7 linked regions of the Homo sapiens genome follow. The protein of the gene in region 1 purifies or fractionates together with the protein of each later gene. This does not show direct contact. Each region holds a gene or a part of one and is shown in the gene's direction. Other genes may lie near its edges. The genes, in order: MOB1A, DEGS1, MPG, CRLF3, SGK1, THOC2 and ANKRD28.

What was found.
Region 2: the proteins of MOB1A (region 1) and DEGS1 purify together in Homo sapiens (co-immunoprecipitation; one large-scale study listed by IntAct). This does not show direct contact.
Region 3: the proteins of MOB1A (region 1) and MPG purify together in Homo sapiens (co-immunoprecipitation; one large-scale study listed by IntAct). This does not show direct contact.
Region 4: the proteins of MOB1A (region 1) and CRLF3 purify together in Homo sapiens (affinity purification with mass spectrometry; one large-scale study listed by BioGRID and IntAct). This does not show direct contact.
Region 5: the proteins of MOB1A (region 1) and SGK1 purify together in Homo sapiens (co-immunoprecipitation; one large-scale study listed by IntAct). This does not show direct contact.
Region 6: the proteins of MOB1A (region 1) and THOC2 purify together in Homo sapiens (affinity purification with mass spectrometry; one large-scale study listed by BioGRID and IntAct). This does not show direct contact.
Region 7: the proteins of MOB1A (region 1) and ANKRD28 purify together in Homo sapiens (affinity purification with mass spectrometry; one large-scale study listed by BioGRID and IntAct). This does not show direct contact.

Annotation. Positions count from the first base shown.
Region 1 is NC_000002.12:74,165,072-74,169,172, reverse strand, and holds part of MOB1A (MOB kinase activator 1A), read left to right. Parts: intron 1-2,065; coding exon 2,066-2,159; intron 2,160-3,821; coding exon 3,822-3,955; intron 3,956-4,101. UniProt on the Homo sapiens protein: Activator of LATS1/2 in the Hippo signaling pathway which plays a pivotal role in organ size control and tumor suppression by restricting proliferation and promoting apoptosis.
Region 2 is NC_000001.11:224,185,750-224,189,850, forward strand, and holds part of DEGS1 (sphingolipid delta(4)-desaturase DES1), read left to right. Parts: intron 1-3,827; coding exon 3,828-4,101. UniProt on the Homo sapiens protein: Has sphingolipid-delta-4-desaturase activity. Converts D-erythro-sphinganine to D-erythro-sphingosine (E-sphing-4-enine). Catalyzes the equilibrium isomerization of retinols.
Region 3 is NC_000016.10:76,926-81,511, forward strand, and holds the start of MPG (DNA-3-methyladenine glycosylase), read left to right. Parts: upstream 1-1,299; 5' UTR 1,300-1,384; coding exon 1,385-1,408; intron 1,409-2,213; exon of another isoform or gene 2,214-2,367; coding exon of another isoform or gene 2,368-2,406; intron 2,407-2,499; coding exon 2,500-2,775; intron 2,776-4,586. UniProt on the Homo sapiens protein: Hydrolysis of the deoxyribose N-glycosidic bond to excise 3-methyladenine, and 7-methylguanine from the damaged DNA polymer formed by alkylation lesions.
Region 4 is NC_000017.11:30,793,221-30,797,321, reverse strand, and holds part of CRLF3 (cytokine receptor-like factor 3), read left to right. Parts: coding exon 1-11; intron 12-984; coding exon 985-1,162; intron 1,163-3,649; coding exon 3,650-3,872; intron 3,873-4,101. UniProt on the Homo sapiens protein: May play a role in the negative regulation of cell cycle progression.
Region 5 is NC_000006.12:134,168,663-134,172,442, reverse strand, and holds the end of SGK1 (serine/threonine-protein kinase Sgk1), read left to right. Parts: intron 1-126; coding exon 127-250; intron 251-710; coding exon 711-806; intron 807-1,264; coding exon 1,265-1,420; intron 1,421-1,527; coding exon 1,528-1,617; intron 1,618-2,007; coding exon 2,008-2,175; 3' UTR 2,176-3,187; downstream 3,188-3,780. UniProt on the Homo sapiens protein: Serine/threonine-protein kinase which is involved in the regulation of a wide variety of ion channels, membrane transporters, cellular enzymes, transcription factors, neuronal excitability, cell growth, proliferation, survival, migration and apoptosis.
Region 6 is NC_000023.11:123,621,332-123,625,432, reverse strand, and holds part of THOC2 (THO complex subunit 2), read left to right. Parts: intron 1-763; coding exon 764-892; intron 893-1,241; coding exon 1,242-1,373; intron 1,374-1,461; coding exon 1,462-1,646; intron 1,647-1,723; coding exon of another isoform or gene 1,724-1,789; intron 1,790-2,149; coding exon 2,150-2,328; intron 2,329-2,572; coding exon 2,573-2,675; intron 2,676-3,845; coding exon 3,846-4,101. UniProt on the Homo sapiens protein: Component of the THO subcomplex of the TREX complex which is thought to couple mRNA transcription, processing and nuclear export, and which specifically associates with spliced mRNA and not with unspliced pre-mRNA.
Region 7 is NC_000003.12:15,679,480-15,683,580, reverse strand, and holds part of ANKRD28 (serine/threonine-protein phosphatase 6 regulatory ankyrin repeat subunit A), read left to right. Parts: intron 1-4,017; coding exon 4,018-4,101. UniProt on the Homo sapiens protein: Regulatory subunit of protein phosphatase 6 (PP6) that may be involved in the recognition of phosphoprotein substrates. Involved in the PP6-mediated dephosphorylation of NFKBIE opposing its degradation in response to TNF-alpha.

The DNA of each region.
Region 1 (4,101 bases):
AAATATGTTTTTACGAAAAATGACTATTTTCCATAACAAATTTTAGTGAGAAGTATGGCATTGTTTTATATTTTTGCAAATCTTATTTAATGTCTGGCTTAATAGACACCTGGATTCTTATATCCGTTTCTGTATTCAGTCTGTTGTGATATTACACATCATGGAGCCTCTGGAAAACACCATTGTGCCCTCTTGAGAGAGTAAGAGTGAAAAGAACAATTAAAATGGTTTGACCTTACAGATCCTCCCTCAGATAGGGGATTCCTGGACCACGTTTTGAGAATAGCTCTTCTAGACCAAACCAACTTCCACCTGGGCATATTTTTTGTTTTGAGTGAATATTGAATACCTAAGTGTTACTTTCTTAGAAACATGACTAAGAGGAAGATTTATAAGTGAGGGAGTTTTGTATAAAATTCCTTTTACAAGATAGCATTTTAAAAAAATCTATTTGTTTTTTAAGAAACTTGGAAAATACCTAGTTGTTTTTAGGTACTTCTTTAGACAGGAGACTAAAACTTTTTATTTATTTATTTTTTCGAGACAGGGTTGTCCAGGCTGGACTGCAGTGGTACCCTCACAGCTCTCTGCAACCTTGAACTCCTAGTCTCAAGGGATCCTTCCACTTCAGCGTCCTGAGTAGCTGGGACTACAGGCGTGTGCCACCATGGCTAACTAATTTTTTAAAATTTTCAATAGAGACCGGGGTCTAGCTGTGTTGCCCAGACTGGTCTCAAATCCTGGCCTCTTAAAGTGCTGTGATTATAGGCGTGAGCCACTGCACCTAGCCTAAAACATTTTTTGAAACTTTCCAAGGCTTATGTGGTTCTCTTTGCATAGAGTATACTCACTCAGTAAAGTTTATTTACTCACCCCCTGCCTCTTCCATTTTATTCTGGATCTAGCTGAAGCTCCCTCAGGAAGTACCCCCTGACTACTTCCAACTCTTCATGACTTTGCCTTTTCTCTGTAGCATTTATCGTTGGCCTTTGGATCCTGTCTTCTTATATCTTGTACTATTATTGCTATTTTTATTTTGAGACAGTGTCTCTGTCACCCAGGCTGGAGTGCAGTAGCACCATCACAGCTCACGGCAACCTCAGCCTCCTGGGCTCAAGCAGTCCTCTCGCCTCAGCCTCCTACATAGCTGGGACTGTAGGTGTGCACCACCACGCCTGGCTAATTTTTTAAAAATTTTTGTAGAGATGGAATCTCACTCTGTTGCCTAGGCTGGTCTTGAATTCCTGGGCTCAACCAGTCCTTCTACCTCAGCTTCCCAAAGTGCTGGGATTACAGGCATGAGCCACCATGCCTGGCCATATCTTATATTATTCATCTCTTTTAATTTTGTCCTTTCTGTTAGCTAGAGACTCCAGGGCAGGGGACTTTATCTGAAGTATTTTGTCCTCAGTATGCTGTAGACCTCAAAAACAAATGTTTATGATTAATTAGATCTTTTAAATGCCTCTGGATACAGCTGGTGCACCTTCTCCCTCACAGTATATTCCACAACATGTTTTGTCTCTTTCCTAACACAAATGGTATTATCTGGTCCAAAGTGGTAAACTATGGATTTTTCATTCCCTTGGATGTAATCATATTGTATATCCAAAGGATATAATAGTCATCGTTAAGTTAGAATTATCTCCAGTATCTTATTTTCCTGCTGTTACATGCGAGTGGATCATGAGGTCAGGAGTTCAAGACCAGCCTGGCCAACATGGTGAAACCCTGTCTCTACTAAAAATACCAAAACAAAATTAGCTGGGCGTGGTGGCATGCACCTGTAATCCGAACTACTTGGGAGGCTGAGGCAGGAGAATTGCTTGAACCCGGGAAGCGGAGGTTGCAGTGAGCCAAGATTGCACCAGCCTGGGCAACAGAACAAGACTGTTTCAGAGAAAAAAAAAAGTGTAGTATACTACAAGTTACAGTATCATTGGATTATTGAATGTCTCAAGGGTTCAGCTAAGAACCTAAATGTATTGTCTGTTTTTCCTTCAACTGGAGGTCTCATATTTTGTGTTTACACAGACATTTTGACACAATTCTATTATCTCTGCAGCTGTGGATTTCTTTAACCAGATCAACATGTTATATGGAACTATTACAGAATTCTGCACTGAAGCAAGCTGTCCAGTCATGTCTGCAGGTCCGAGGTACATATACTGCCTATTATATAGGTGTTTGGATTAGTTTTACTTTATCACCAATTGATAGAAATTAAACAGTTAAGATTTGTTATCCGTTTGTGTGAAGGTGATTCAGTTTTATTGGTTCTTGACTACTCACCTGTAAGCTTTTAGTTATTGTGTAATTTTAAAATTTTATTTATTTTGAGACAGAGTCTCGCTCTGTTGCCAGGCTGGATTGCAGTGTGTGATCCTGGCTCACTAACAACCTCTGCCTTCCGGGTTCAAGCGGTTCTCATGCCTCAGCCTCCCGAGTGGCTGGGATTACAGGCCTGTGCCACCACTCCCAGCTAATTTGTGCATTTTTAGTAGAAATGGGGTTTTGCCATGTTCCCCAGGGCTGGTCTCAAACTCCTGGCCTCAAGTGATCTGCCCACCTCGGCCTCGCAAAGTGCTGGGATTAAAGGTGTGAGCCACTGCACCTGGCCAGCTATTAGTTATTATTAAATACTTTAGTATGTGGGTACTCCCTGTTTTCATTTTTATGTTGCATCATAGTAAGTCTGAATGTTTTATTATAGGAATAAACAGAAATTTGAGTTACATTTGTCTTGAATTGCAAACATTTTATTTTTTCAATTTTATTAATAACATTTATGTTTCCTGTTTCTAGTTTTTAAATGAATTTCTTGGAAGAGTTTTTAGTTGATCTTTTAATATTTGATTATTTTTTCTTGTGCTTATTTAGTATTTAAAGCAGCACAATTTAGAAGTAATTATCTGGCTTGAAGATGCTAGATTTAAAAACATTTTGACTTTAATAAATTTCAAGAAATACTGAAAAAGATGGAACTCTATCACTCATAATATTAAGTCCATCATATGATGGGATTAATGTTTGCTGTGTTTCCTTCCAGTTTCTTTTTTTTTTCTTATAATAAATGACTGATTTTATGTGATGATAGATGTTATCAAGATGTTTGCTTCTTAGAAAAGATTGTCCTTTCTGACTTTGCTACAAGTGTAAAGGAAAAAAGATCCCTAATGAGTTTGTAGTTCTATTTTTATTATAATATTTTAGGAAGAATGTTTTTATTTTATATTGTGTTAAGTTTTATTATTCAAGCTTTAAAAGAAATGAAAATAAACAGGAAAATTAAACTTACCTATGGCTCAAATGCTTTACACAGTGATGTTTTGTATAACTCTTGTTAATCCTTCTAGCTCGGCAAAGGTAAGGGGGGAAAGTATGCATGCCTAATGTATATCTCTAACACCTGGCCCCCAAAACAGAGTTTTATAATCTTGGGTCCATTGATGATAATAAATTGATGACCAAGAATCTCAGAAGAATGTAGTGGATCCATCGGCTCCATGCCCAGCCCTCAGCAACCTTCTGCTTTACAGGAATGCAGTTCCTTTGTGTTTCCCAGGGCTGTGTTGTTAATAAAACATCTATCCTGGCATTGCCTCCTGCCACATTATCTCCCTTTTTTCTTCCAGTTATAACTGTCACTTTCTGGATAATTACATAGGGAACTCACAGTAATCTTCAGTAGAACTTAAGGTGATTTATTAAAGTTAGATGTAACTTCTATTGACAAAATGTGAATGAACCTGTTTTAATCACAACTTGCACATTTGTTAATATTTTTGAAAAATTTATCAGTAAAACATTTTTCTCTTCAGATATGAATATCACTGGGCAGATGGTACTAATATTAAAAAGCCAATCAAATGTTCTGCACCAAAATACATTGACTATTTGATGACTTGGGTTCAAGATCAGCTTGATGATGAAACTCTTTTTCCTTCTAAGATTGGTGAGTTAACATTGTCGAAGTATTCTTTCTTTTTTTAAAATTTTATTTTATTAATATAAATAGAGTTGGGGGGGTTTGCTGTGTTGTCCAGGTTGGTCTCAAACTCCTGGCCTCAAGTGATCCTCCTGCCTTGGCCTCCCACAGTG
Region 2 (4,101 bases), on another chromosome or scaffold:
TCCCAAAGTCCTGGGATTACAGGCGTGAGCCACCCTGCCAGGCCACATATGATATATTTTATCAATGCCTTATCTACATGTTACATAGGAATAATCTAGCGTCCTACCTGTGTAAAAACCAACTCTGGAATACTGAAACTGAGCTACTTAATATTCTGAAAATCAGGACGGGTGTGGTGGCTTTTTTTTGCCTGTAATCCGAGCACTTTGAGAAGCTGAGGCAAGAAGATCGCTTGAGGCCAGTTCAGAACAGCCCCATCTGCACGAGAAATTAAAAAATTAGCTAGGCGTGCATGCCTGTCCCGCTACTCAGAAGGCTGAGGCGAGAGGAACACTTGAACTCAGGAGTTCGAGGCCAACCTGGGCAACATGGCAAAACCCCATCTCTACCAAAAAAAAAAAAATTTAATTAGCGGGACATGGTGGCATGTGCCTGTGGTCCCAGCTACACAGAAGGCTGAGGTGGGAGGATTGCTTGAGCTGGGGAGGTAGAGGCTGCAGTGAGCCGTGATTGCCCCACCGCGTTCCAGCCTGGGCAACAGAGTGAGACTGTCTCAAGAAAAAGAGATGAAGGAAGTGAGAAGGTGCTGATTGATACTTACCTCACACTGAGCCTTTTTTCCCCCCACAGACTTATCACTGAACCATTTCACTGGGAAAGTAAAAGGACCACATATTTCTTGGCCGGGCATGGTGGCTCACGCCTGTAATCCCAGCACTTTAGGAGGCTAAGGTGGGCGGATCATGAGGTCAGGAGATCGAGACCATCCTGGCTAACACGGTGAAACCCCATCTCTACTAAAAATACAAAAAATTAGCCGGGCGTGGCGGCAGCCACCTGTAGTCCCAACTACTCAGGAGGCCGAGGCAGGAGAATGGCGTGAACCCGGGAGGCAGAGCTTGCAGTGAGCTGAGATGGTGCCACTGCACTCCAGCCTGGGCGACAGAGTGAGCCTCCGTCTCAAAAAAAAAAAAAAAAAAAAAAGAAGGACTACATATTTCTCAATGAAAATACAGTGTACAATGTTTTCCATGCAGGTGTAAATACTAACTCATGTTCTGTTTCAGGGTGGGAGATGGAATAACCTGTAGAAAGAATCTTTAGATTTGTTTAAATTATACACAAATGATAAGAGATCTTTCTGAAAGTATTGACTTTTTGGCGGGGGAGGGAAGGGGCCTGATAGAACAACCAACAATTGTACACTTTAAGTTTACATTTAGAGTTCACATTAAAAGTTCATTTACAAGGCATCTGTTTGAAATTCGTGAGGATGAGCTGGGCTGGGTGGCTCATGGCTGTAATCCCAGCCCTTGGGTGGCTGAGGTGGACAGGTCACCTGAGGTCAGGAGTTCAAGACCAGTCTGGCCAACATGGTGAAACCCCGTCTCTACTAAAAATACAAAAATTAGCTGGGTGTGGTGGTGGGCGCCTGTAATCCCAGCTACTGGGAAGGCTGAGGCAGGAGAATTGCTTGAACCCAGGAGGCAGAGGGTGCAGTGAGCTGAGATCTCACCATTGCACTCCAGCCTGGGCAACAGAGCGAGACTCCGTCTCAAAAAAAAAAAAGAATAAATCACAAGAAATGGTTCCTTCACTGTTATACTTTAACATGATACAGCTTTTTAATGTTTTATTTTTTGAGAGAGAGTCTCACTGTGTTGCCCAGGCTGGAGTGCAGTGGTGTGATCATAAATTCTTGGGCTCAAGTGATGCTCCCGCTTCAGCATCCTAAGTAGCTGGGACTACAGGCTTGTGCCACCTCACCTGGCTAATTTTTTTTATTTTTGGTAGAAATAGAATCTGTTTGCCCAGGCTGGTCTTGAACACTGGGCCTCAGGCAGTCTTTGTGCCTCAGCCTCCCAAAGTGCTGGATTAATGGTGTGAGCCACAGCACCTGGCCAATAGCTTTATTGAGATTATAATTCAACTATCATGATTTATTCATTTAAAGTGTACAGTTCAGTATTTTTTAGTATATTCACAGAGTTGTGCAGCTGTCACCACCATATAACCTTAGAACATTTCATCATCACCAAAAGAAACCCTATACTCATTAGCAGTCCCTCATATCCCCTGCTTCTACCTAGGTAACCACTAATCTACTTTGTGGCCTATAGATTTGCTTATTCTGGACATTTCATATACATGAAATCATAAAATACCTGATCTTTTATGATTGGCTTTTACTTAGCATAATATAAATTTTTTTTTTTTTTTAATTTGTAGAGACAGGGTCCTGTTATGTTGCCCAGGCTGATCTTGAATTCCTGGGCTCAAGTGATCCTCCTGCCTTGGCCTCTCAGAGTGCTGGCATTATAGGTGTGAGCCACTGCACCCAGCCATTAGCATAATATTTTAGCTGGGCACAGTGGCATGCTCCTGTAGTCCCAGCTACTAGGGTGACTGAGGCAGGAGGATCACTTGAGTCCAGGAGTTTGAGGCTGTAGTGAGCTATGATGGCATCACTGTACTTCAGCCTGAGTGACAGAGGTAGACCCTGTCTCTAAATATTTTAAGGTTCATTAAAATAATATATTTTCAATAAAATAATATTTCAATAAAATAATATTTTAAGGTTCATTCATGTTATAGCATATGTCAGTGTATGATTCCTTTTTCTGGCTGAATAATATTCCTTTGTATGGATATACCAGGTGTTTAACATTTTGAGGAACTGCTGTACAGTTTTCCAAAGCAGCTGCACCATTTTATATTCCCACTAGCAAAGTATGAGGGTTCTAATTTCTCCACATCCTTGTTTTTACCTACCTTTTTTTATTATAGTCATCCTAGTGAGTGTGAGGTGGTATCTATGGTTTCAGTTTGCACTTTCCTAATGACTAACGGTGTTGAGCCTCTTTCATGTGTTTCTTGACTGTTTCCGTATCTTTTGGAGAAAAGTGGGTTCAGATCCTTTGCCCATTTTTTAATTGGATTATTAGTTGTAAGAGTTCTTCATATATTCTGGATATAGGTCCCTTATGAGATACATGATTTGCAAACATAACCCCGCTTCTGTGGATTGTCTTTTTACTTTCTTGACAGTATCATGTGCAACAGAAAGTTTTTGATGCTGTCCGATTTCTCTGTTTTCTTTTGTCACTTGTACTTGTTATAGTATCTAAGAAACCACAAAGGCCATGAAGATTTATTTCTATGTTTTCTTATCAGAGTTTTATAATTTTCTTATAAATTTGGGTCTGTGATCTGTTTTGAGTTCATTTTTGTGTATGGTGTAAGGTAGGGGTCTGAATCCATTCTTTTGCCTGTTGATAACAAGTCGGTCTAGCACCATTTGTTGAAAGGACTGTTCTTTCCCTGATTATATTGGTAGCCTGTAGTATTGGTTTTTATATACTATTACAATTTTGGGAAAATTCAGTACAGAATTACTTGGAGCATGTTGATTTGTCTGAGAAAACTGTGAATACCAGTTTCATGATTTTAGGGTAACTACAAAATGTATATTATATTCTATCCTTTGTCAGATGTGTTAATTTAATCGTTTTATATAAGGTAAGAATGCTGTACCTCTGTCTAAACACAGAAATAACATGTATTTTAATATAAAGAATGTGGAACTTCTAAACTTTGAGGCTAATTTTTCCTGCATAAATTCTCAAATTATTGTGACATGATATTTCATAACTTTACTAGTAGAATCCTTCCCTGTGTTATTAAATATCCACTAAAGTCTCTAGTAAAGGGAATATGATTTACAGAACAAATTTAATGTGTTAGTTTAATTGGTGTTAATTTAATTATAATTGGTGAACTATTACATACTTTTCTTAGTTCCTGTTTTTTTGTTTTTTCTTTACAGCAAAGTATCCAGAGATAAAGTCCTTGATGAAACCTGATCCCAATTTGATATGGATTATAATTATGATGGTTCTCACCCAGTTGGGTGCATTTTACATAGTAAAAGACTTGGACTGGAAATGGGTCATATTTGGGGCCTATGCGTTTGGCAGTTGCATTAACCACTCAATGACTCTGGCTATTCATGAGATTGCCCACAATGCTGCCTTTGGCAACTGCAAAGCAATGTGGAATCGCTGGTTTGGAATGTTTGCTAATCTTCCTATTGGGATTCC
Region 3 (4,586 bases), on another chromosome or scaffold:
GGCTGGGGCCCATGGGGGTGGGACGGCTGGTCAGAGGAGGAGAGGCAGTTGGAGACCAGGTCCTGCCCTGTTAGCCTTTCTGTAGGACCAGGTGTCACACTCATCTGAGGGCTCCAGACACATGGCCTGTGCGTCTGTCCTGCCCAGCGTCTCCCACCTGACGCGGCCAGGTGCCCAGTTGCTCTTCAAGGCCTTTTCAGGTGCTCCTTTCCAGGACCAGGGTCACAGAAGTCAAAGCTCAGGAAAAGCCCCTCGAGGGTTTTTGTGCGGCAGAGGTGGGTTGTGGGGTGGGATTGTGCCTGCCACAGTGGAGGGGCCCTGCAGACCCAGATAAACCTTCAAGTGGCCAGAAGCGGGGGATGGCTCTGCTGGGTGCTGGGGCTGCCATGGGCCGTGGGAGCCAGCAGTGTGCCCAGCTCCCTCAGGGCCCGTCCCCTAGGCCCTTCCGTCCACTGGGCCAAGCACCGTCCCTGCCCCTCCCTAGGGGCATGGATCTGACTTGAGAGGTTGTGAGAGCTTACAGGCGCTGGGCCGTCGGGGAGGCCTCAGAAGCGTAGGACGGCTGCGCACTGCCGGGCCGTGTTCAGCCCTGGTCTGGCCTCGGCCTCTAGAGGAGGCTGCCTGCGCTCCAGCAGGCCCAACCCAGAACGTGGGCGAGCTCCCTTCAGCATCCCTGGGCGGAAAGAGGGATGGGGGCTCTGCTGCAGAGGCAGAATCCGCGCCGCTCCCTCCTTCCTTCCCCCGACCAGCCTGTGACAACCCCGGCCAGGGGCGGGGGCCTCCGCACAAGCCTGGCGTCCACTTCCTGGATAAGGACTCCCCGGCCCACTCCGGACCAGGGCTGGGGCGGCCTCCCAGGCGCTCACTCCGCTGGCACCCCACCGGAAAACACGTCTGCGGCCCGCCCCCTCCCCCAAAGCACGACCACTCCGCCCGGGCCCCTCGAGGATCCACTCAGGTTCACGACGGGCCCGTCCTCTCGGTGGTCTGACCACCGGCTGGTGGAGTGGGCTCTGGGGCCGCCAGGCGACCAGGGCGCAGGCGGGGGCGGACAGCTCATTGGGAGGGGCGCCGGGGCACAGTGCGGGGCTCGCCCCACCCCCAGGTGCCCCTTCCCCGCTCTCGCCTCGCAGGCACCGCATCGGGCCCGGGAATCGGTCCGGACCTGGCGGTGGGCGCTGGGAAGAGGATCCACCTCCACGTGGCCCGCCCCGCCCCGGGGGCGCAGCCAGTTCCCGGCGCTCACTGCCCCCCTTCTCCCGGCTTCCGTCCCCTTCTGCGCAGGCGCCGCTCCGCCCCGGTCCTAGGGGTGCTTCCGTGGTCGGCGGCTGCTGGGCTCCGCGCCGGGGTCCGAGTCCCACGAAGCCCCGGCCCGAGCCGCCGGATGCCCGCGCGCAGCGGGGCCCAGGTGAGCGCGCGCCTCGGCCGCCCCGCGGAACAGACGCGCCCACCCCCAGGCGCAGCAGCGAGCGCGGCCGCGGGAGCGGGAGTGCCGGGGACGGGCGTAGCGCCCACCGCCCCGAGGGTTCGGGGCAGAGCCAGAGCATAGGCCAAGGGCCAAGCTCGGGCCGAGAGCAGTGGCCGCAGCGCCCGGGGGCTGAACCCACGGCGCGCTGGCAGCGCGGGCCGAGCTGCGGAGACGGTCACGTCAGCGTCCGTTCCAGGCCGACTGGCAGTCTCCGTTCTACATTAACGTCAGCACTCCCGTTAAAAATAATGCATCTCTCCCATGCCAGGAGGACTTAGGTGCTGCTAAAGACCAGCCCTCCGGGTGCTGCCAGGCCGGCGCTCACCCGCCACCTTCATCTTCCCTTCTCCTTTGCCCCAGGACAGCCGAGGATGTGTGGTTAGGTTCCCCCTACCCATGGGGAGGCCAGAGGTGGGAGGCTGGCGGCCTGCTCGGTCTCAGCAGACCCTCCTAGTCCCTCAGGAGACCTTGCCTTTGCCCCACTTGCTCGTTATCCAGCCTGGGCCATGAAGCAGAGGACAGTTAGGGACCCTGAGCACGCGGTGGTCACCCCGGTGCTCACCCCTCCCTGTGTGTCCGACCTTGGCCCTGCTAAGATCCTGTGTTTTGAATTCTGGCAAGGGTTGGATGAAAGGGCAGGGCTCCAGAAACCAGCTCAGACGTTTGCTTGGGACCTGCATGATGAGTGGGAATCGGAGGGCACCAGCCCTGCTGTCCCAGGCTCAGGCCCCCATCTGCTCCCCAGGTCATGCAGCCTGGGCCCCCATGCCGTGCAGCTCGCACATATGTGGGGCAGAGCAGCCACCCTGCCCCCAGCAGCAGCCGTCCATCGTCAGACGTGATCATTTCCTGAGGCCTCGAGTGTGTCAGGGTGTTTGTGCCTCATAACAACCCACAGGATGGTCACCCCCGCTTTGCAGATGAAGAAACCAAAGCAGGTGGTCAGATCCAGTCCTTGCACTTCCTGAGCCTGACCTTACCACACAGCTGTCTCCTATTCGGATGCTTATTTATTTTTTTTCCCATTACAGTTTTGCCGACGGATGGGGCAAAAGAAGCAGCGACCAGCTAGAGCAGGGCAGCCACACAGCTCGTCCGACGCAGCCCAGGCACCTGCAGAGCAGCCACACAGCTCGTCCGATGCAGCCCAGGCACCTTGCCCCAGGGAGCGCTGCTTGGGACCGCCCACCACTCCGGGCCCATACCGCAGCATCTATTTCTCAAGCCCAAAGGGCCACCTTACCCGACTGGGGTTGGAGTTCTTCGACCAGCCGGCAGTCCCCCTGGCCCGGGCATTTCTGGGACAGGTAATGTGAACATAGCAGCGAGGGCCCTCCTGAAGTGCCTGTCACTGCAGTTGTCCCTGAACCCCTGTCCGCTGCCTGCTGGATTGGCCCTCAGTTAGTCCTCCTTGTCCTCATGCATTTAGCGGCTTTGCTCACACTGGTCCCTGCTTAGCTTCATCTCAGTTGCCTGAGGTCATCTGGGAAGAATGTAGAGATTGTCAGTGCTGCTTGCCCAGGGTGGAGCAGGGGTGCCACTGTCTGCCCCCGGCTCTGGGCATCTAGGGCAGGAGCACTTGCACCGTTAGCCTTCCTCACCGGCAATCCACCTCAGTTTTTCCACACGTGGGAACTGTGGCTGTGGCCAGTGTCGGGCTGCCCCTTCCCGCTGTAGTGGCTCACAGTGCAGTGCTGGCTTCCCAGGGCCCCTGCAGCTTAATGTAGGTCAAGGATCTGGGCTCTGCCAATCAGACTTGGAGTAAGAAGCAGGGACTGCCCAGGTCCCATCCTGGTGGGGCCTACGGTGCAGCCTGTCCCCACGAGCAGATGCTCACACAGCCGTGGCATCTTGGCTGGATCTGTTGGGAGCGAGGTGGTGGCGGTGGTCCTCGATGCCAAAGCCCCAGGCCTGCCTTTCTGGTTCTCCAGAGGCTCCAAGGCCTTCCCTTTGTCCTTTAATGAGCCTACTTTTAGGTTATAATCACCAAGAAGAACCAGAAGAGAAATACCAGTGCCAGGAGTTGGGTGCTAAAGGAGCAGACCCTAGAATGTGGGCTCGACCTCATGGAGAACAGAGAACATTCTGTCCCCATGCGGATCCTTCTAAAAGCACCTTAAGTAATGGGCATTTGTGGCCAGGTGTGGTGGCTCATGCCGGTAATCCCAGCACTTTGGGAGGCGGAGGTGGGTGGATCACGAGGTCAGGAGTTTGAGACCAGCCTGACCAACATGGTGAAACCCCATCTCTACTAAAAATACAAAAATTAGCTGGGTGTGATGACGGGCGCCTCTAATCTCAGCTACTTGGGAGGCTGAGGCAGGAGAATCACTTGAACCCGGGAGGCAGAGGTTGCAGAGAGCTGAGATCACGCCATTGCACTCCGGCCTGGGCGACAGGGCGAGACTCCGTCTCAAAAATAAAAAAAAAATACAATGGGCATTTGTGATACAACAAAACAGCACGTGTGGCAGGTGCGTCGTAGGAACAGGGCAAGGGCGCAGCATGGCATCAGGGACCACAATACGTTTGTCTCTATTCAGCATCCTTGTCAGGCCACAGTCATGCCCACTTGAGCCCATTGGTGGACAAGATGATGTCCAGCAGAGAAGAGGGTGTCTCACCCTGTGTCCCTTGGATCAGGGACAGCCCTCTGCCCTCTCCATAACCTCCTAGTGGATGCCCTTGCAGACCCCTCAGCCAGGCTTGGGTCATGCACTCATCCCTAAAAGGGTCACTGCAGTGAGTTGCCATGAAATCCCAGGCCACTCTCTGGGCTGAGGAGGGTGTGGTCTCCCCCAGGAGGCTCTGCCAACAAGGAAGAGGGGTGTGTGTTGGCCATGGGGGTGGGGAGGGGTGAGAGGCCCCAGTATCTGCCACTGGTGGAAATGGTATCAGTGAAATCCTGATCAGAAATTTGGGATGGAAAAGGAAACAATGAGAAAAGGGCTGTGGGAACCTCCTCTCCAGAGTGGTAGTTGGGCCCCCCCAGTGTGCCCCCATGGAGGCACAGGAGTGTGCAGAGTGAAGCCCCTGGAGGGGCATTCCCTCTAAGCTCCAGGGAAGATGGAACAGGGCCACCCTTTCTCCCCTGGACATGGCCTGGCCAAGCCTGGCC
Region 4 (4,101 bases), on another chromosome or scaffold:
CAGTTGGACAGGTAAAAGAGTTTGTGCCTTTTTGACTTACTTTTAAGCATTTAAACTATGTCTGCTTTTTTCCTCCCTCTGTTCAAGATTCTCATTAAGGGAGATAGAGAATATATATTTCAAGGTTTTCAGACCATGCGTGGTGGTTTACACCTGTAATCCCAGCACGTTGGGAGGCCAAGGCGGGTGGATTGCTTGAGGCCAGGAGTTTGAGACCAGCCTGGCCAACATGTTGAAACCCTGTCTCTACTAAAAATATAAAAATTAGACGGGCATGGACCTGTAATCCAGCTACTTGGGGAGGCTGAGACAGGAGAATTGCTTGAACCCAGGAGGCAGATGTTGCAGTGAGCCAAGTTTGTACCACTACACTCCAGCCTGGGCAACAGCAAGACTCCATCTCAAAATAAGTATAAAATAAAATAAAAAATTATCCGGGCATGGTGGCGTGCGCCTGTAAGTCCCAGCTACTCGAGAGGCTGAGGCAAGAGAGTCGCTTGAATCGGGGAGGTGGAGGTTGCAGTGAGCTGAGATCGCACCACAGCACTCCAGCCTAGGGGACAGAGTGAGACTCTGTCTGAAAAAAAAAAAAAAAAGCGTTTCACTGCCCATTACCACTGTTACTAATGAAATAGTTGTGATTATAATCCTTGGTATAGTATTACTACACATTTTTTCAATCCAATATATAAAAGAATTGTTAAATTTTAGAAATTATCAATGTATTGTTGAAATGGAGTCATATTCCAGTAAACCAGATCTTTTGGCTTAAACTGGACAGTTATGATCCTACCAATTTTCTGTCTTACTTATATTTATTTGAAAAGAGAATCTTTGTGTAACATCTTGCAAATCCCCTACTGCCATGAGAATTAATTACTGGGGGCTTCAGGATCTTTCAAGCATGTGACTGCTCTAAAATATTTCTTGTATTTTTTAACTCTCAGTTAGAGGTCTCATAACACATGAGCTTTGTTTCCTCAGCTTACCAGAAGTACCTTTACTGGTTGATGTGCCTTGTTTATCTGCTCAGTTGGATGACTCAATTCTTAACATAGTGAAAGACCACATTTTTAAGCATGGAACAGTAGCATCTCGCCCACCAGTACAGATAGAAGAACTAATAGAGAAACCTGGAGGCATCATTGTACGATGGTGTAAGGTATGTAATTCAGAATTCTAGAAATGACTTCCACATTATGGGTTTGCGATTTGGAGGCCTTTCAGATTTTTTCGTTGACTACTTTTAAATACATTCTTTTCTTCTCAAACAAAAATCTCTTTTACTTTACAGTTAAAATGAAGTCACATGGAACACTGAGGTAGCTCTTCCAGTTTTATTTTTATTTTATTTATTTATTTTTTGAGACAGAGTTTTGCTCTTTCACCGAGGCTGGAGTGAAGTGGCGTGATCTCGGCTTACTGCAACCTCCATGCCCTCCCCCGCCTGCCGCTTCCCCCGGGTTCAAGCCATTCTCCTGCTTCGGCCTCCTGAGTAGCTGGGATTATAGGCACCTGCCATCACACCTGCCTAATTTTTGTATTTTTTGTAGAGACGAGGTTTCACCATGTTGGCCAGGCTGTTCTTGAACTCCTGACCTCAGGTGACCCACTCGCCTCGGCCACCCAAAGTGCTGGGATTATAGGTGTGAGCCGCCGTGCCTGGCCTTTTTTTTTTAAATGAAGCCTTGCTGTGTCGCCCAGGCTGGAGTGCAGCGATGCAACCTCCGACCTCAGGTGATCTGCCCACCTTGGCCTCCCAAAGTGCTGGGATTACAGGTGTGAGCCACTCCGCCTGGCTGACATTTTCTTTTTTTTTTTTTTTGAGACAGAGTTTCGTTGTTGTTGTTCAGGCTGGAATACAATGGCACGATCTTGGCTCACCACAACCTCCGTCTCCCGGGTTCAAGCAATCCTCCTGCCTCAGCCTCCCAAGTAGCTGGGATTAAGGCATGCGCCACCACACCTGGCTAAGTTTGTATTTTTAGTATTTTTGTATTTTTAGTAGAGACAGAGTTTCTCCATGTTGGTCAGGTTGGTCTCAAACTCCCGACCTCAGGTGATCTGCCCACCTCGGCCTCCCAAAGTGCTGGGATTACAGGTGTGAGCCACTGTGCCCAGCTGAGATTTTATTAAAAGGAAATTTTTTTTTCTTTTTTTATAAACATGCTGTTGTTATTTTCTAACAGGACTGTCATTCCATTTTTATTATTTTTCCTATCAGTGGACCTAGTTATTTCCAGTTTTTTGCTATAAGTATTTTTACTTGTGTTTCTTTATGGACATATGTGAAGTTTGTAAAATATTAATATTTACCTAGGTGTAAAATTATGAGGTCTTCTTAGAGTATTGGATCCATACGCTGATAGGTAATAACAAACTTTCCACAAGATGATTCTATCAATTTAGCCTTCCAAGGAGTATATGAGTTTCTGTTATTCCATATCTTGACCAATAATTGGCATTGTGAGACTTTATATTTTTGCCTAAATGTACCTTGTTGTGGTTTTATTTATTTGTTTGTTTTTGAGACAGGGTCTCACTCTGTCACCCAGGCTGGAGTACAGTGGCACAATCATGTCTCCAGTCTCAATCTCCTGGGCTCAAGTGATCCTCCCGCCTCAGCCCCCAAGTAATTGGGACTTCAGGCATGTGCTTCCACAGCCAGCTAAGTTTTGTAATTTTTTGTAGAGATGGGGTTTTGCTGTGTTGCCTAGGCTGGCCTCAAATTCCTGGGCTCAAGTGCTCCACCCGCTTCGGCCTCTCAAAGTGTTAGGATTATAGGCATGAGCCATCATGTCTGGCCTTGTTGTGGTTTTAGATCGTATTTGCCATATTACAAATTAGGTACAAATTAGGTTGAATATTCATAATATACATTTTTGGCTATTTATGTTTCTTCTCCTGTAGAACGCTTATTTATGTCTTTTACCCATTTTTCTATTGGGTGGCTAATTAACATACAGAATATATGCAGGACCCCTAAAAATTAATGGGGGTTCTGTATACTGTATGTTAATTATCTCTTGGTTATTATGAATGATGTATGGTTGTGGGAGACTTACTGAATCTTGAATGTTTTATCTTTGGCATTGATTAAAAAACATGCCATTTCTTCAAAGGAGGCAGACTTTTTTATATCAGACTGGGAAATACAGAACACATGGTTCAATAAAGAAAAGAAGGGAGCCCAGGCGCAGTGTCTCACGCCTATAGTCCTAGCACTTTGAGAGGCTGAGACGAGAAGATTGCTTGAGCTCAGGAGTTAAAGATCTGAGATATGGTGAAGCCCAGTCTCTACAAAAAATACAAAAAATTAGCCGGACATGGTGGTGTGCACCTGAAATCCCAGCTACTTGTGGGGTGGAAGGAAGAGGATGGCTTGAACCCGGGGTGTGGAGGCTGCAATAAGCCGAGATCACGCCACTGCACTACAGCCTGGGTGACAAAGTGAGACCCTTTCTCAAAAAAAAAAGAAGGGAGATAATGATGTGATGGCATATTTTCTATGGCCTTCCCAAGAATACCCCATATTCAGCATGTGGGCCTGTCTGCTTGGTCCAAAATGGCTCCGTTCAAAATTTTTAAGCAGTGATGCTGAGAGAAGTCATTTTCTGTTTTTTACCTAACATAAAGCTTTTCTCCCTAGGTGGATGATGACTTTACAGCCCAAGATTACAGGCTCCAGTTTCGTAAATGTACTTCAAATCATTTTGAGGATGTATATGTAGGTTCTGAAACTGAATTCATAGTATTGCACATAGACCCCAACGTTGATTACCAGTTCAGAGTCTGCGCCCGAGGAGATGGCCGACAGGAGTGGAGTCCTTGGAGTGTCCCCCAGATAGGTCATTCCACATTGGTGCCTCATGGTATGCTGCTAACCTTTTCTCTCCTGAAGCCTAACTATATATTAGAATACCTGTATTCTGTGCTAAGGGCAGCACACTGACAACCAGCTATTCTAAGCATAGATCCTGAATTGATAAGAACAACATGCACCATGTCTTTTACTCAGATTACCTCATGTGATTTTTGTTTTCATCAGTTCTTCAGAGTCCAAAAAAAATGCTGGACAAGATTTTTAGCCTCATTGAAAAC
Region 5 (3,780 bases), on another chromosome or scaffold:
TTTTCTTCACTACACAACTACAGTGAACCTAAAATGCCTCTAATACCTTTAGCAATTATCTTTAAGAGGATATCTTATGAAGTGAAATTAACTTGTGCAACTACTTTTCTATTCACTTTTTTACAGAGACTTAAAACCAGAGAATATTTTGCTAGATTCACAGGGACACATTGTCCTTACTGACTTCGGACTCTGCAAGGAGAACATTGAACACAACAGCACAACATCCACCTTCTGTGGCACGCCGGAGGTAGGCGCTGTCTTGGTTTGGTGCCTGGTTTACCCCCGCCTTCCAAGAGAGAGATGTACAATCATGCACTTAACTACCAAAAAGAGTAAACTCCTCTCAGAGACTTCTTAATACAGTTCAGTGCAAATAAAATACATTTGCTGTTTGATGTAGCATGAGAAATCCCAAGTCCTTCTGTTCCTTTACTGAAAAGTAGCTGTTTGTAAGTAAGATCTGCATCATAAAAACTTTCTAAATCCCTAAGTAAGAGATATCAAGTGCCCAGCAGTTTCCTAAATGTCAGTACACATAGGTAGCCAGTCACCCTCAAAAAGTCCAGCAGTTTTATCAGGAAGGAATCTAAAGATATCTATCTTCCAAGCTGGCTCTGGGTCTCTCAGCTTTTTCAAACTAAATGTGTGGTCGTGGGATTGCTTGCTTTCGCAGGTTCTAAACGCTGTTTCCCTGGTCTGTTTTTCAGTATCTCGCACCTGAGGTGCTTCATAAGCAGCCTTATGACAGGACTGTGGACTGGTGGTGCCTGGGAGCTGTCTTGTATGAGATGCTGTATGGCCTGGTGAGTGGCACATTGGGAACCATGGAACACTGCCTGCTCCCTACAATATTGCCTTCACACAGCCCATGCTTGGCCATGGTGTCTTGCCCTTACCAGTACGCTTATCAAAAGCAGCTAAGAGGCATATTGGTTATTTTATAGTTCATAAGAATAATCACTTACCTGGTTCTTTTGTGCATTTCACATTTTACTAGATAGGACCACATTGAACCTGTGTGGTGGTGAAAAACTACCACTTATTAACATCTACCCCCTCACCCTCCACACACACACACACAAACACACACACGGGTTGCAAAGTAGACACTTAAATAGCAAGGGAAAAGAAAGCATTGAGGTGGGGAGAGTTTCTCAAATCGAGCCTAATATTTATTGCCGTTTATATCTTTTTCTCTACTGGTAATGTGTGCCATATGAAACTTCCAATTAAGTCTAAAGTAATTTTCCCCTTCTTTCAGCCGCCTTTTTATAGCCGAAACACAGCTGAAATGTACGACAACATTCTGAACAAGCCTCTCCAGCTGAAACCAAATATTACAAATTCCGCAAGACACCTCCTGGAGGGCCTCCTGCAGAAGGACAGGACAAAGCGGCTCGGGGCCAAGGATGACTTCGTGAGTGATGTTTTCCTGTCCTCCTGGGCCGGCCGGGACGTGCACTAGACCTCCCTGCCCTTATTGAATGCACCTGTCTAAATTAATCTTGGGTTTCTTATCAACAGATGGAGATTAAGAGTCATGTCTTCTTCTCCTTAATTAACTGGGATGATCTCATTAATAAGAAGATTACTCCCCCTTTTAACCCAAATGTGGTGAGTATCTGTCTCTCTTCTAAGTATAGAGAAGCCCAAAGGGCATTTATTTTAATTCAGAATTGTCTGGGGGAGGGTTGGAAGGAATACATTGGCAGATGTTTTCTCCATAAACCTGTTATTTTACCTACATAAAAAGCACATTTTTGTGTCCCAACAAGGCTCCCATAATTTTTAGACACATTTATCAATTCGAAGCACCAAAAGGCAACAAGTGAACATTATTCTTATGTTTAACTGTGTGTAGCCTTTTGAGATTTTGTGCTTGAAGTGGGTGATTATGGAAGTTGATATAAGACTTAAACTTGGTATTTAAAGCCTGGTCAAGATTTCCCTGTCCTGTGTCTAGTGTGAGTTCTTGACAAGAGTGTTTTTCCCTTCCCGTCACAGAGTGGGCCCAACGACCTACGGCACTTTGACCCCGAGTTTACCGAAGAGCCTGTCCCCAACTCCATTGGCAAGTCCCCTGACAGCGTCCTCGTCACAGCCAGCGTCAAGGAAGCTGCCGAGGCTTTCCTAGGCTTTTCCTATGCGCCTCCCACGGACTCTTTCCTCTGAACCCTGTTAGGGCTTGGTTTTAAAGGATTTTATGTGTGTTTCCGAATGTTTTAGTTAGCCTTTTGGTGGAGCCGCCAGCTGACAGGACATCTTACAAGAGAATTTGCACATCTCTGGAAGCTTAGCAATCTTATTGCACACTGTTCGCTGGAAGCTTTTTGAAGAGCACATTCTCCTCAGTGAGCTCATGAGGTTTTCATTTTTATTCTTCCTTCCAACGTGGTGCTATCTCTGAAACGAGCGTTAGAGTGCCGCCTTAGACGGAGGCAGGAGTTTCGTTAGAAAGCGGACGCTGTTCTAAAAAAGGTCTCCTGCAGATCTGTCTGGGCTGTGATGACGAATATTATGAAATGTGCCTTTTCTGAAGAGATTGTGTTAGCTCCAAAGCTTTTCCTATCGCAGTGTTTCAGTTCTTTATTTTCCCTTGTGGATATGCTGTGTGAACCGTCGTGTGAGTGTGGTATGCCTGATCACAGATGGATTTTGTTATAAGCATCAATGTGACACTTGCAGGACACTACAACGTGGGACATTGTTTGTTTCTTCCATATTTGGAAGATAAATTTATGTGTAGACTTTTTTGTAAGATACGGTTAATAACTAAAATTTATTGAAATGGTCTTGCAATGACTCGTATTCAGATGCTTAAAGAAAGCATTGCTGCTACAAATATTTCTATTTTTAGAAAGGGTTTTTATGGACCAATGCCCCAGTTGTCAGTCAGAGCCGTTGGTGTTTTTCATTGTTTAAAATGTCACCTGTAAAATGGGCATTATTTATGTTTTTTTTTTTGCATTCCTGATAATTGTATGTATTGTATAAAGAACGTCTGTACATTGGGTTATAACACTAGTATATTTAAACTTACAGGCTTATTTGTAATGTAAACCACCATTTTAATGTACTGTAATTAACATGGTTATAATACGTACAATCCTTCCCTCATCCCATCACACAACTTTTTTTGTGTGTGATAAACTGATTTTGGTTTGCAATAAAACCTTGAAAAATATTTACATATATTGTGTCATGTGTTATTTTGTATATTTTGGTTAAGGGGGTAATCATGGGTTAGTTTAAAATTGAAAACCATGAAAATCCTGCTGTAATTTCCTGCTTAGTGGTTTGCTCCCAACAGCAGTGGTTTCTGACTCCAGGGGAGTATAGGATGGTCTTAAAGCCAACCTACGTTCCAGGCCTTTTTAGCAGCATTTTATGGTGTCTGTCATTCATAAATCCATCCAAGGAAATCCTTTGCAATTTACTCATCTTGCAAGGATTGCTATGAAGTAATGCTTCCTGTATTTATTGCCTGTCCTGTGAAGTTGGACTATTTGTCCTGACATTTGGCTTGTCTTCAGTTACAGGTAATTCTTTCCAGAAATATTTGAAAGCCTACTCTGGGCTCTATTGCGAGTGCTCAGGATATCGTAGTGGACAAAGCAGACAACTTCGCCCTTCCAGAGCCTGATGAAGAAGGCCGACCTAAAGCAGTTAGTTGAGATGGAAATTGAGAAATAGTCTGTGAAGTTTAGGAGAATGCCACACAAGAGGGTGAGAATTTTTTTTTTTTTTTTTTTTTTTTTTGAGACACGGTCTTACTCT
Region 6 (4,101 bases), on another chromosome or scaffold:
TTATTACTACATTTTGTGGTTTAAAAACATAATGTGGCCGGGTGCGGTGGCTCATGCCTGTAATCCCAGTACTTCGGGAGGCCGAGGCGGGTGGATCACAAGGTCAGGAGATCGAGACCATCCTGGCTAACATGGTGAAACCCCGTCTCTACTAAAAAAAAAAATACAAAAAAATTAGCCGGGTGTGGTGGTGGGTGCCTGTAGTCCCAGCTACTCAGGAGGCTGAGGCAGGAGAATGGTGTGAACCTGAGACGCGGAGCTTGCAGTGAGCCTAGATCACACCACGGCCCTCCAGCCTGGGTGACAGAGTAAGACTCAGTCTCAAAACAAAACAAAACAAAACAAAAAACATAATGTATGTTCCAGTATGTCAGCTGCATATTTTTAATTTCTATCAGCATTTCCTCTGCTTACTCTCCCCGTAAACCCAGTAATATGTATGGCTAAGTGGTTAAGAAACTATTATGTAATAAAAAAAAAACAACTTATTATGTAATAATAATGATAAATTTTTTTTTCCTTGTCACTGTAAATCAGCTTTCTTTATAAAAGTTCTTGTTTTGGGTGGTTGTTTTATGAATGCATTATTTCCCCACAAAAGCCAAAATCTCCAAAGTTCTCTGCAGTGTCATTATATAAAGGGAATATACATTTTGACTAGGCTTACCTGTTTATTATGACTTGCTGTAAGAGAATCTTCTAATATTTTTAACTGATTTTGACCTTGATTTGTTTATATTTTTTAAACATTTTTCTCCTGTAGGTTTTCTCTGACATAATTTACACAGTTGCAAGCTGTACTGAAAATGAAGCCAGTCGATACGGAAGGTTTCTTTGCTGCATGTTAGAGACTGTGACCAGGTGGCATAGTGATAGAGCCACATATGAAAAGGTATGACTAATAAAAACCCTTATATTTTACCCATGTATATAATGACCACATCCATTAATATCTAGATAGTTGAGTTTTAAAAGAGAAGCTGAGTTTAAGATTCAGTTGTAAAACTGTGTTTATAAGCACAATTAATTTGTTATTAAAATGTGCTATGTACTTTTTTATTCTATCTCAAACTGACATTCCAAATTAGTATCTTTGTATAAGTTGAACTTTTTGTGACTACCTATCCAAATACGCATGATGTTTTTACACGGAAACATTGATCTAGTCTACTTAAGTTTCAATTTCTGCTATTTTGTGGATCATAATTTTTCTTTAAAAGTGACAAACATTGTTTCCTTAGGAATGTGGAAACTATCCAGGATTCCTTACCATATTACGGGCAACTGGATTTGATGGTGGAAATAAGGCTGATCAATTAGACTATGAAAATTTTCGACATGTTGTACATAAATGGCATTACAAACTAACCAAGGTAAAAAAAAAATTGGATTTTTCAAAGGCAAATTTTTCTCTGTATACTTGTGCTTTTATAATAATGGATCTGAAAATGTTTGTTGTAGGCATCGGTACATTGCCTTGAAACAGGCGAATATACTCACATCAGGAATATCTTGATTGTGCTAACAAAAATACTTCCTTGGTACCCAAAAGTTTTGAATCTGGGTCAAGCTTTGGAAAGAAGAGTACACAAAATCTGCCAAGAAGAAAAAGAGAAGAGGCCAGATCTATATGCATTGGCTATGGGGTAACAAAATTATATTTTAATGTGATTTACAAGACTAGATGACAGAAGGATTCTGAAGACTTTAAAATGTTTTACAGTGTTGAAGTTTATCTTCTGCCTTCAGGAGATTATGGGAGATTATGCGATCATGTTTCCACAGGCTGGTGAGAGTTACCACTTCTGATTATCAACTTCCGGTCTATACTGGATGATAGTTTTTTTAAAGTCATGTATAATATTTCTTGATTGGGAGGAAATATAATTTTATCATCATAGTTAACAGATCTTCAAGAGTAAAAAAAAAAAGCCATCTTAGTTTAAGGATTAGTTTATAGTGAAATTGTAATTTTTAAGAAAGCTGGGCGTTCTATAAAAACCTTCAAGAACTTATTAAAAATTGGTATTTTTTAATTCTCTAGAACCACATAGTAGAATGAATAACTTGCTAATTTTATTCTTAAAAACCTCATGTTTATGTTTTTTGATTTGTGTTTGTATATTTAAACACTTTGTGCGACTTTCAGCTACTCTGGGCAGTTGAAAAGTAGAAAGTCATACATGATACCTGAAAATGAGTTTCATCACAAAGACCCCCCTCCGAGGAATGCAGTTGCCAGTGTGCAAAATGGGCCTGGTGGTGGGCCTTCTTCATCATCAATAGGAAGTGCATCTAAATCGGATGAAAGCAGTACTGAGGAGACTGGTATGCTTATTTGTAGAAACTTATAAGTAATATATTTTATTTCAACAAAGTGAAATGTTTTGTATCACAGAACGAGTACAATGCTGGCTTAGTATTACTTTTTATTCCCTAGATAGGAGTATATAAGCGTTAAGAAGTAATCAGCTTGCTGTTTCTTTCTAATTATTCTCTAATCATTTTGCTCTGAAATTGTAGCTTATTTACATTTAGGGGCTTGTTAAATAAAACCTTACTTTTATTTCAGATAAATCAAGGGAGAGATCTCAGTGTGGTGTGAAAGCTGTTAATAAAGCTTCTAGTACCACACCTAAAGGGAATTCAAGCAATGGAAATAGTGGCTCTAACAGGTAGGAACACTGTGCCATGTGTCATAATTCTAAATTCTTTTTAAAAATGATTTTTATGTATTTTTTTGAGACGGGGTTGGTCTTGCAATGTTGCCCAGGCTGGTCTCGAACTTCTGGCCTCAAGCGATCCACCTGCCTTGGCTTTCCACACTGCTGGAATTAGAGGCATGAGCCACTGCACCTGGCCCTCATAATTCTAAATTCTTCTATGAGTCCTCATGAGTAGAAGGGGAGTGGTTGTTGAGTAATGTGAAAAGTCATTTATGTTGGGCTTTGAAATTTTGTATGTACCCTATTTTGCTGATACGCTTTACATCCTAATTATGTTTTGTATAGTTATGCTTGTATAACGACTTTGTTTCTCCTTCTGGGATATTCAGGGGAATGTAGGTGTGAAGTTAAACAAATATTTTAGGATAGAGGGATTGCTGTGGGTTGAAGCGATTCTTGTGCTTCAGCCTCCCTAGTAGCTGGGATTACAAGCGTGTGCCACCACTCCCGGCTAATTTTTTGTGTGTTTTTAGTAGAGACAGGGTTTTGCCATGTTGACCAGGCTGGTCTCAAACTCCTGGCCTCACGTGATTTGCCTGCTTTGGCCTCCCAAAGTGCTGGATTATAGGTGTGAGCCACCGTGCCCGGCTAATACATCTTTTAAATCTGCAATTAATGAATTTGTTTATGATTTACTGGATAAAGAAATACTTCCTTTTTTCGAGAAGGAGTCTTGCTCTGTCACCCAGGCTGGAGTGCAGTGGTGTGATTTTGGCTCACTGCAACCTCTGCCTCCCAGGTTCAAGTGATTCTCTTGCCTCAGCCTCCAGAGTAGCTGGGATTACAGGTGCCCGCCACCATGCGCAGCTAAGTTTTTTGTATTTTTAGTAGAGACGGGGTTTCACCATGTTGACCAGGCTGGTCTCGAACTCCTGACCTCAAGTGATCCACCCTCCTCAGCCTCCCAGAGTGCTGGGATTACAGGCGTGAGCCACTGCACCCGACCATTACTTCTTCCTTTTTCCTTGTCTTAAAGTTGTCCTTTAGTTTTCAAAGGACTCCCCCTTAGTTCTAGTATTTTTGAAGTTAGTAAGAAACCCTTTATGATATATTTTATCATATATCAAAGGATATATTTTATGATTATTTGTGTTAAAATCCCATGTTTTTATTCTTAAGCAACAAAGCTGTTAAAGAAAATGACAAAGAAAAAGGGAAAGAGAAAGAAAAAGAGAAAAAAGAAAAGACTCCAGCTACTACTCCAGAGGCCAGGGTACTTGGTAAAGATGGTAAAGAAAAACCAAAGGAAGAGCGGCCAAATAAAGATGAAAAAGCAAGAGAGACCAAGGAAAGAACGCCGAAGTCTGACAAAGAGAAAGAAAAATTCAAGAAGGAAGAAAAAGCTAAAGATGAGAAATTTAAGACCACTGTCCCC
Region 7 (4,101 bases), on another chromosome or scaffold:
GTTAAATCTGTTGCTCATTGAACAAGCTAGTTTAGTCTCTTTGTTTTTTACTACCTTAAATCCTTAACCAAAACAGTTTTGAAAACTATAAAACCTTTGGGGTTTAACTTCTCTTTTTCCCATTTCTACTCGCTAAGGCAAGTAGAAATGAGTGTAGTGAAGTGGCCAGAGACTAGTACTCATACTAGAACAAAGAAGATACTGTATTTTGCCATTGATGTTTGATTTGTTTCTGTAATGTGACTTGACATTTTACAAGTATAAGGAAAACCCAAAATATCTAATATAGTGGGAAAATATCTACAATTGTGAGTTGTGTTTCTGTAAAAAAGTCAGTGAGATAAAACTGTTCAGAAGCAAAGACTTACTGCTTGGTTTTTAAAAAAATATATCCCTGAAGATTAACCATTGGAAAAATCACACAGTGAGATATTTTTCCTCAGGAAGAGCATTTAGTTGTAAATGTACTGCTGTAACTGTCCTTTGGAGAGTTGCTTTCTATTACAGTGTTTGTTATCAGATCTATATGTAGAACATTTTCCCTAAAGTGAGTTCCTACTCTATCACTGCTAAATTTAGACTCTAAGCACGTTTTGTGCAAGAGACAGAATTTTGCAAGAACTGCATGCCTGGTTGCCATTTAAAGATCATAACAAATGTGTCTGATTTTCAGCCTGTAGCAAAATTGTGGTGATGCTGAATTTGAGCTGGAAGGAATTTAATGTGTGTTGGCTATATGCAATAAGCGACTATATAGACAGCCTAAAATTAATACCATATTTATAGCCAAAAGCCCGTTTTATAATTTGGCATTCTGAAAGTAGAATATGTAAAATGGTTTTTACTTTAACTAGTAATTATTGTACAGCTGGAAAGAAAAGTGGAAGCATGCCAACAGAACAGAAAACAACCTCTTAAAATTAAAATGAAATGATGGCCAAGTTTTAGAAAAACACTGGCTGTAGATACTAAAAGTTCACAATTTCAGTTTATATAGTCATTCAATCACAGAACTTAAGAATACTTATTATTCCTTTAAAAAATGTGTTCATTTTTATGAAGCTCTAAACATCCTCAGACTAGCCTCTGAAACTCAGGAGGACCCAGTTTACCATCCTATCTATCTTTCATAAATGATGATAGAAAGTTATGAGATTGTCTGCTTGATATCACCCAGTAATGATTTCTGGAGGTCACAAAGGGGCCCCACTGTTCCCTTTTCTCAGTCTGTACTCAGATGGTGAGTGGTTCTCAAACCCTTTGGTCTCAGGAACTATGGATTGATACTGACTGTATTAGAAATTGTAATTGAGAAATTTTTAAATACTTACTGATTTATTTAAAAATAATGTCTATTACATGTTAACATAAATAATCTTTTTTTATGAAAACTATTTTCCAAAAGTATTTTCTTTTTAGTGAGAAGAGTAGTACATCTCTTCATAGCTAATTTAAGAGAATAGTTGGGTTCTCATCTGTGTTTTTATTCATATTTTTTTTGCGTCACCCCAGGGTTCCCTAGGCCACACCTTAAGAACCCATATACCTGGAGAATGAGGGGCTCTTAAGTCAACAATGGACAACTTTCCATTGCTGTATCTTAGTAATGAGTTAACATTCAGAACGATGGCATTAAAGGAGTTTCTCAACCTCAGCACTATGACGTTTTGGGCCAGATGATTGTTGCAAGGGACTCTCCAGTGCATTGCAAGATGTTTAGCAGCATCATTGGTTTCTACCCACTAGATGCCAGTTGCACTGCCCCACCTTCAGTTGTGATAAACAAAAATGTCTGTAGGCATTGCCACATACAATATCTGCTGATGGGCAAAATCCACTTGAAAACTACTAGATTAGAGAAAAGAACTGACAAAAGATGGAACACAATTACAGGTTTTTCTAAAAATTACTTTTCCACAATTATAGGGTAAAGTTTAAGCTGATTAAGTTTGAGTAATTTAAAAAGAAAAGAAAATATAACATCACTTTGGTAGGCAAATATTAAACCATGAAAATGTATAAAGAGGCCATGTAAGAATCTTATTCCTAAAGTAGATCCCAAATGACTAATGAAATAAAATAAGCAACATTTTATTTGTAGTAATTAGGGTATTAAATTAAAACCCTGGCTCTGGAATTAGGGTAAGAAAATTTGAAATTTGGATTTTTCTGTTTTTGAAGTTACTGTTAAAAACTATGGACCAGATATTGATGAACAGTCAATACAGTCAGCCCTCCATATCCATGGGTCCCCCATCGGTGAATTCAACTGAATGTCCATCAGAAATATAGTTAGGCTGAACATGTACAGACTTTTTTTTTGTCATTATTCCCTAAACAATACAACAACTATTTATATAGCATTTACATTGAATTAAGTTGTAAGTAATCTAGAGATGACTTAAAGTATATGAGAAGATGTGCATAGGTTATACACAAATAAACCATTTTGTACAAGGGACCTGTATAAGGGACTATGGAGTTTTGCTGTCAGTGGGGAGTCCTGGACCCAATCCCCCAAGAATACCAAGGCTGGATACTTCTCCTTTACCACAGCAATATCACTTTGGTAGGAAATTGTCCTACAAAAATACTTCCTAAAATAAAAACAAAATGTTGGCCGTGGTGGCTTATGCCTGTAATCCCAGCATTTTAGGAGGCTGAGGCAGGCAGATCACTTGAGCTCTGGGATTCAAGACCAGCCTGAGCAACATGGCAAAACTTCATCTCTACAAAATATCAAAAAATTAGCCAGGTGTGGTAGCCTTGCACCTGTTGTCTTAGCAACTCAGGAGGCTGAGGTGGGAGGATCACTTGAGCCCAGGAGGTTGAGACTGCAGAGAGTCATGATCATGCCACTGCACTTCAACTTGGGCAACAGAGCAAGACCCTGTCTCAAAAAATTGTTTTAATAAAATAAAAAAATACCAGAATGTTTCATTACAGCGTTGTTGATAATATCATGAAGAATTTTTTTAAACTAGCAATCACTTTAAAATCCATAATTAGATTAAATAATTTATGATATACTTTGATACTGTGAAGCTCTTCAGAACATTAAAGAATAAGATTTTAGCCGGGCATGGTGGCTCACACCTGTAATCCCAGCACTTTGGGAGACTGAGGCAGGTGGATCACCTGAGATCAGGAGTTTGAGATCAGCCTGACCAACATGGTGAAACCCCGTGTCTACTAAAAATACGAAAAAAGCTAGCTGGGCATGGTGGTGGGCGCCTGTAGTCCAGCTACTTGGGAGGCTGAGACAGGAGAATCACTTGAACCCAGGAGGCAGAGGTTGCAGTGAGCCAAGATCGCGCCACTGCACTCCAGGCTGGGCAACAGAGTGAGACTCCATCTAAAATAATAATAATAATATTTCATATATGCTATTATGGAAGGATATGTGTAGTTAATATTAAGTAAAAGGCAAGTTGCGGAATTAAACATCCCATTGCCATTAAGAAAAAAATAAAAAAATAGCACAGTCATTTCTCGTTTGCTGTTGAGGATTGGTTTCCAGGACCCCTTGTGAATACCAAAACCAACAGGCGCTCAAGTCCCTTATAGAAAATGGGATAGTATTTGCATATAACCTATGCACATTCTCTGCTATACTTTAAATCATCTCTGGATTACTTATAATAACCAATGTAATGTAAATGTTATGTAAATAATTGGTATGCTGTATTTAGGGTATATGACAAGAAAAAAAGTCTGCTCTGTTTTTTTTTTCCCCCAAATATTTTTAATTTGGGGTTGGTTGAATTGATGGATGCAGAACCCACGGATACAGAGAGCCAACTGTATGTATTTTGTGCGTGCAGTTGTATATGCCTAGAAATTTTCAGGAACTACTGGTGGCTTAACAGCTACCAATGGTTATATTCCAGAGAGGGGATCTGGGAGATGGGATGAGGGAGAGACTTTTACATTTTTCCTTTAAACACTTACATGTACCTGTGATTTTTGCCAGTATCTCCTTTGAATTTTAATACCTGGTTCTTTACACCTATTTAGGTCACGAGACATGTGTAGAACTGCTTTTAGAACAGGAAGTTTTCCAGAAAACGGAAGGAAATGCTTTTAGTCCATTGCATTGTG